Homo sapiens: one gene and its partner. The protein of the gene in region 1 purifies or fractionates together with the protein of each later gene. This does not show direct contact. Each region holds a gene or a part of one and is shown on either strand. Other genes may lie near its edges.

Evidence for each region.
Region 2: the proteins of CYGB (region 1) and HNRNPA1L2 purify together in Homo sapiens (affinity purification with mass spectrometry; one large-scale study listed by BioGRID and IntAct). This does not show direct contact.

Annotation. Positions count from the first base shown.
Region 1 is NC_000017.11:76,535,598-76,539,509, reverse strand, and holds the start of CYGB (cytoglobin), read left to right. Parts: upstream 1-1,800; 5' UTR 1,801-1,967; coding exon 1,968-2,110; intron 2,111-3,912. UniProt on the Homo sapiens protein: Probable multifunctional globin with a hexacoordinated heme iron required for the catalysis of various reactions depending on redox condition of the cell as well as oxygen availability.
Region 2 is NC_000013.11:52,640,670-52,644,324, forward strand, and holds HNRNPA1L2 (heterogeneous nuclear ribonucleoprotein A1-like 2), read left to right. Parts: upstream 1-1,761; 5' UTR 1,762-1,823; coding exon 1,824-2,786; 3' UTR 2,787-3,104; downstream 3,105-3,655. UniProt on the Homo sapiens protein: Involved in the packaging of pre-mRNA into hnRNP particles, transport of poly(A) mRNA from the nucleus to the cytoplasm and may modulate splice site selection.

The DNA of each region.
Region 1 (3,912 bases):
AGGGCTGGCAGTTTTACCCTCTGGACAATCCTCTCCAAACTTTTCTGATTACACGCCCTCTTCAGTAAAAGGCAGAATTCAAGTGTGCACTCACAAAATAGACAGGTGCAGCCACTTACAAATTATATGCTAGACTACTGTACAGATTCATTCCTACACCATACGACTATATTACATTTGCAAAGGATGAGATGAAAAGAAATAGTTACACGATTTCTCCTATTTTCTTTCCACATCCCAAGGGGACCTGTTGGGCAGCCACTTGGTCACACCAACTTTGAGAAGCTGTTCAGTGTGTGTGTGGAGCATGGAGCCAGCCATGGCCACGCTGAGACATGGGTCTGGGAGTGGTGTGAGAACCTGAACCCACCCGCTCCCCTCCAGCCCCTCCAAGACCCCCAGGAGGCATTAGATTTTCATTCCCTCAACAAGGGGGAGACAGTGTCAGAGGCACTGCCTCAGGGTCCCCCAGGCACCTGAACCCTGAGCTCCCAGGAGGGGCCCAGGCTGCAGCTGAGGCTGGCCAGGGTGAGTTCTCCTCGCCTCCCCCGGACCTTAAAGTCGGATTTTAAGAATAAATACATGAACCATAGTGAAAGCGCAGAGCCAACCCTTAGCAATGCTTGGGCAATGGGACATCAAGTCTTGAGCGAGGACAGGGGTCGCCGGGAGCCTGAGTGACATCTCTTCCCAACACTGCCAGGCCCTGTCTGGCCTCAGGCTGTCCCCAGGACTGAGCAGCCGCTGCAGGGCAGGCACCATGGGATTCTCCCCCCACCTCTGGCCCAATCTCACACTGCCCTGGATAGGGCCCACCAGGAGGAAGGATTTGCCTCCCCCAGGCCCGGAATCGGGCCCTTGGTGGCGGCTGAGATGTCCCCAGCAGCCTGCGCCTTCCTCAAGACTTTTTGTCTGCCAGGTCCTGTCTGCCCTATCCGGTGCCTCTCTGGACTTCCTCCGCCACCAGCTGGGCTAGAATTCAGGGCAGCGGCTGGTTCTTGCCTGTCCGTGTCATTCATAAGCCACGGGGGACTTCTGGCCGCCGCCGCCGCGTTCGTGCACCGAGGGCATGGAGGTGCTGGGCGGAAGGAGAGGGGGCGCAGGCCTCTGGCGCCCGAGGTCGGAGGTGCGCTCAAGTTCCGACAGCCGGGGCGGTGGGCGGGCAGGGGGACGACCCCCGTGCTAACCCCCCAGAGCCTGGGCGTCCAGAGCCGTGGGAGTGGCGCCGCGGCCCCCAGCGGCTGGCTCGGGGGCGCGGGGAGAGGCCCGGGCGAGGGGAGCCCAGCTAGGTCCACGGCGGCCGCCGGAGGGGCTCCTGTTCGCCCCCACGGGCGGGCTGGCGGTCGGCCTCGCCGCGAAAGCTCGGGAGTGTTGGACTTTGAGTCAGTTCCCCGCCGCGGGAAGGGTCCGCACGCGCACACTCGCGACGCCGCAAGCACTGGGACCCGGAACCCAGCGCTCCCGGCCCGCGCCCGCCCCAGCGCACTCCTGTGCGGCCCGCGCCGCCCAGCGCCGCGTGACCGCCCATTCCTCCCGGGACCCCCAGCGCCCCGGCCACACCTACCCGAGCCCCGCCCCGCGGTGCAACTCCGCCGTGGCCTGCGGGTGGGCGGGCGGCAGTCGCGTCGCCCCCACCCCGCGCAGCCTTCACCTTGCCGGCATTGGCTCTTACCCACACGGGGCTGGGGGTTTGGAGCGGATTTGTTTTTTTAAACATTTTCCAGCAGACCACATCCCCGCCCCACCGCTGGCTGTCCCCCGCCCCCCGCACATATACCCTGCACACACGCACGCACACACACACACACACCCGGCGCGCACAGACACACGCTCCCTCCCTCCGCGCTCTACCCCTCGCCCGCCCGCCGCGCACGCAGCCGGCCCCGGCTCCCGGCGCCCCGCGCCCCGCGCCCCGCGCCCCGCCACCGCCGCCGCCGAGCAAAGCCGGGCTGGGCTTGGAGCTGCTCATGGAGAAAGTGCCAGGCGAGATGGAGATCGAGCGCAGGGAGCGGAGCGAGGAGCTGTCCGAGGCGGAGAGGAAGGCGGTGCAGGCTATGTGGGCCCGGCTCTATGCCAACTGCGAGGACGTGGGGGTGGCCATCCTGGTGAGGTAGGTGTCGCCCGGCCCGGCCGGGCCCTGGGCAGGGAGGGCGGCAGCGGCTCCGGGCAGAGGAGGGCTGGGCCCGGGTCCGAGCTCCAGCGCCACCTCCCCAGCCGCGAATGGGGCCGGTCCGAGGTCGGCGGAGCAGGCGGCGTGGGGCGCCTTGGGGTGAACGAAGCCTGGGTTGAGCCTTCCCTGGCTCCGGCGCGGTGTTCACCAGGATCTAGGAACCAGATGCAGGAGAGCACCTCGGTCCCCCTCCTCTCCCCGGCCTCAGAACTCCTTGCTCGGCCAGCCACCCCAGACACCCAGCCAAACTGTCAGACACACACATTTTTCTGGCCTTTCAAAGGTAGTATAGCAGGGGCTCCCCATTTTAGAGATGGGAAAACCGAGGCTCAGCCAAGAAGCGGGACAAAGAGGAGCAGAACCCTGTCTCCAGCTCAGCGGCTTGCGGGATTCAAAGCCTCTTGGAAGAACAGAGAGCAAAGAGCAGAGGTTGAGAAAGAGGAGAGCCCGGGGGGTCCAGTGTTCCCAGCTGCCCCCTTCCCGCTGGAGGGCACGGGCCAGCAGGAGCGCCCAGGGCAGGCACAGGTGAGTGGAGAAGCAAACAGTCCCCTAGGATACAATCCCTGCTGAGTTTGGAGGGTGAGGGGAAGAAGAGAGAAGCTTCAGGAGACAGGGCCTAACCCTAAAACCTCCCACCTAGGGAGGAAATGCAGTGGCTTGGGCTTAGGGGTCATTCAGGCACTACATGCCCCCAAGAGACCCACAAACACAGAGCGCCCCGTTCTTCACACACCTAGGCTTAGAGCACACACACCATCCTTATAGAGGTGATGTGTCCAAGTCTCGAAAGCTAGTCACTGACTCTAGCTACAAATCCATGCTCTCTTTCCACACGTGCTGGTCCCTGGGGGTGCAGGCAGAGGAGCCCCAGACCATGCTCACCCTCAAGCCCCTCTTCTTGGCAGAGGAAAGCGGTCAAATCTAGGACAGAGCAGGGCAGCCTTGTCATGTGCAGATGGGGTGAAGCCTCGCTCTGGAAGGGCAGCTTTAGTGCATCCTTGACTACCAGGCCTGCTCCATCTCCAGCTTCTTCTCCCTGTGGCCTCTCCCAAGCCTGGGACCGACCCAGCTCCACCATGATATGCCCTGATTCCAACTCAGAAGCAGATTTTGGAGGAAAAAGAGCAGGAAGCACTTCTAAGGAGTTAGAGGAGCGCTCCTGAGGATGGGGCAGCTATCTCAGCAGCCCCCAAGCCCAGAAACACAGTCGGGAGTGGCAGGAAGCTAAGAGGGACATTGGGATACTAGGGCCTCAGACGCTCGGAACCACCAATCCCCACAGGTGCTGGCACCCACACAAGCACATTGTGGGTAGCAGAGCCGCAGATGTGCCAGACTGCGTCCTCGGAGGGTGCCGTCAGCCGTGTGTCAGCACCTGCAGCCCACCGGCCTTGCATGCGTCTGGCACACTCATGGGTCACCATGAAGAAGCGAGGCAGGGTCCTCAGGACCTTGGAGGTTTTGTGTCCCAACCCCTGCCAGGTACCTGTGCGGATACGTGGAGGAAGTGCTCACCGTCCACATCATGGAACACCATTGAACCTCCCCAGGAAGGGGACCAGGGTAGGGCAGATGCCAAGGGAGAAACGAAACACCGAGGCCAGGGCCATGTCTGGGCAGTCCGAGTTTTCAGCAAGGATTTCTTTCTCTCTCTACACCCCTCTTCCAGTTCCCCACTCCTGTCTCTTAGAGGGGCCTGGGCCTGGGCTGGGGGAGGTCATTACCAATGCACTCAGTGCCCA
Region 2 (3,655 bases), on another chromosome or scaffold:
AGAGACACACTGGGGTTAACCAGTGAAGTTGCTTACTGCTGCGGGTGACCAGCCAGTGGCTCTCACCGTCCATTTAGACTAAAGGGATCAGTATTTTGGGCACACCCATAACCATTCATAGTACCTTAGTTGGGGAGCTCTGCCTTATGTCCTGGTATTTCTTAAGATTCCTTTCTTGGCTCTCTTCCCACTGCACATGCTTCTTTGACAATCTCATTTACTTCCATGGCTCAGTCACATCTGATATCCACGTCCAATCAATCATGCAGCCCAGGTAATTTACCTCCTCAAAAGCTTTTAATTTGTCATTTGTCTTCATGTTTCTACCTTAGTTTAAGTTACCATCATTTCTTACAAGGAATATGCAAACTTCTGAACAGGGTTTACAAGGACCAGCATGATCTGTCCCGATATTACATCTTGACTCTCTGTAGCCCTAACATAATCTAGTCATCAACTCCTGAATAAGACATGGCTGTCAGTACTTGGCCTCTCCACACCAAATCATTGACTCAAGATTGTTTATTAAAGAAGGACCTGTGATGCTGTTGTCATTGTCCTTAACCTGTAAACTTGCTGCCTTCCTCACTTTCCATTTATTCTTTAACCCTCTGTAGTATTGCATTTGACTTATTACCCTGAATTTGTTGTTACAAAGGTCACTAAGAGTAACCAATTTCCATATTGCTGAATCCCATCCTTCCTTCTCTTCCTGGACCTCTTGATCAATTGATAACCTTTCATAACTCACTTTTCCTCTAAACTCTCTATTGCCTTCAGTTTTGCCCAATCTGAAGTGCCCAACTGTCCTATCCTGCTTCTGTAATATTTTCCCCCTTTTACCATGTAAAAAATAATTTCCTGATGTTCCCTTTGGGTTGCTCCAGAGACTTTTTCAAAGATTGGAGTTCTCCCAAGTTTTGTCTAAAGGTCACTGTTCTTATTCTCTGTTTTCAACTTGTCCGCTTCCAATCTGTTCTCCCCAGTGCAATAGGAGTGTCAGTCTAATTATGTCAAGCCTTCAGTGGTTTTTTAAATCTTTTCAGATGGAGTTGAGGCCCTATGTGGTCTCACCTCTTCTTTATCTCACCAGCCTTATGATCAAATTCTGCACTCCCAGACATAATAGCAATTAGAATAAGAATGTTTTCAATTGCAAGAAGCAAACAGAAAAACCCAACTCAAAATTATTAAATAATACAAAACAAAAAGTCAGGAGTTTGGAGGCTTCTGGGTTGGTTAACTCAGGAGCTCACTGGTATCACTGATGAACTAGGTTTCTCCATCCTTATGCTTTCACTTTCCTTGGGATATTGGTTTGGTCTTCCAGGATGGCTATTGCTAAAGGTAGCTGCAGTAATTTATTCTGTGTTTCTGTTTATCAATAAGGAGACCTTTCCCAGAATCCCTGAGCAGACACCTCATGCATGGCCCAATTGGCTAGATTAGTTATATACCCCTTCTTAAACCATATTGTTTGCCAATATGGCCAACAATGTGGGGTTGGTGATCCCAACAATGTGGGATGTGGGATTACCACAAATGACTTAGTCATGTGCTGGAGAAACAAAATTAGGGCTTCACAGCAAGGAAGAAGGGAGGAATGAAGTATCCTACTGTTATGTATACTTGTCTTTCTTCCTGTACATACACTAAAAAATGTTCAGGCCCATATGAAAAATGTATTTATTTCCCAAAGAGAATCAGCCAGAATCTCATCCAAATACTCTATCCAGCTTCATATCTAAGATCTCTGGTGGACTTTTTCTGCCCGTGGACGCCGCTGAAGAAGCATCGTTAAAGTCTCTCTTCACCTTGCCGTCATGTCTAAGTCAGCGTCTCCAAAAGAGCCCGAACAGCTGAGGAAGCTCTTCATTGGAGGGTTGAGCTTTGAAACAACTGATGAGAGCCTGAGGAGCCATTTTGAGCAATGGGGAACGCTCACAGACTGTGTGGTAATGAGAGATCCAAACACCAAGCGCTCCAGGGGCTTTGGGTTTGTCACATATGCCACTGTGGAGGAGGTGGATGCAGCTATGAATACAACGCCACACAAGGTGGATGGAAGAGTTGTGGAACCAAAGAGAGCTGTCTCCAGAGAAGATTCTCAAAGACCAGGTGCCCACTTAACTGTGAAAAAGATATTTGTTGGTGGCATTAAAGAAGACACTGAAGAACATCACCTAAGAGATTATTTTGAACAGTATGGAAAAATTGAAGTAATTGAAATCATGACTGACCGAGGCAGTGGCAAGAAAAGGGGCTTTGCCTTTGTAACCTTTGACGACCATGACTCCGTGGATAAGATTGTCATTCAGAAATACCATACTGTGAAGGGCCACAACTGTGAAGTTAGAAAAGCCCTGCCAAAGCAAGAGATGGCTAGTGCTTCATCCAGCCAAAGAGGTCGAAGGGGTTCTGGAAACTTTGGTGGTGGTCGTGGAGATGGTTTCGGTGGGAATGACAACTTTGGTCGTGGAGGAAACTTCAGTGGTCGTGGTGGCTTTGGTGGCAGCTGTGGTGGTGGTGGATATGGTGGCAGTGGGGATGGCTATAATGGATTTGGTAATGATGGAAGCAATTTTGGAGGTGGTGGAAGCTACAATGATTTTGGCAATTACAACAATCAGTCTTCAAATTTTGGACCCATGAAGGGAGGAAATTTTGGAGGCAGAAGCTCTGGCCCCTATGGCGGTGGAGGCCAATACTTTGCAAAACCACAAAACCAAGGTGGCTATGGCGTTTCCAGCAGCAGCAGTAGCTATGGCAGTGGCAGAAGATTTTAATTAGGAAACAAAGCTTAGCAGGAGAGGAGAGCCAGAGAAGTGACAGGGAAGCTACAGGTTACAACAGATTTGTGAACTCAGCCAAGCACAGTGGTGGCAGGGCCTAGCTGCTACAAAGAAGACATGTTTTAGACAAATACTCATGTGTATGGGCAAAAAACTCGAGGACTGTATTTGTGACTAATTGTATAACAGGTTATTTTAGTTTCTGTTCTGTGGAAAGTGTAAAGCATTCCAACAAAGTGTTTTAATGTAGATTTTTTTTTTTGCACCCATGCTGTTGATTGCTAAATGTAATAGTCTGATTGTGACGCTGAATAAATGTCTCTAAAAAAAAAAAAGATCTTTGGTGGAATCCGTAGGCTGCTTTTTCATCTGGTGGCTGTGGCTCTCTGGTGTTTTGTCCTCAACAGCCACATCTAATATGAGCACTGGGAAGAAGACTCTTTCTAAGGCTGCTCAGCTTTAGAGTACATTTCTTGATGGTGTGAGCTTGGTGTCCTGTCTCAGAGTCACTAGTTTCCCAGCCCGAAACAGTTGTGTCTCAATGCCCTCCATCCTGCCTTTTCCACCCGGCCAATTACACACCATTCTAGGTCTGTTTTGTAGCACTCCACTTCCAAATACCAAATTGTCTATCAGTTTGGATTCTTAGTCGTAAGCAACAGAGATGGATTCTGGTTTTCAGCATAAGATAAATTGTATTAGAAGAATATTGTGCTGCTTGCAGAATGGCCAAAAGGACTAGAGAATCAGCATCAGTCTGAGCCACACGGCTGGGAATAAATCCTGGAACCATACTGCATAACTGGTCGGGTGAGGAGATTGTAGCCACTGTTGCCAAGCACTGACACACTGCTTTGTAACAC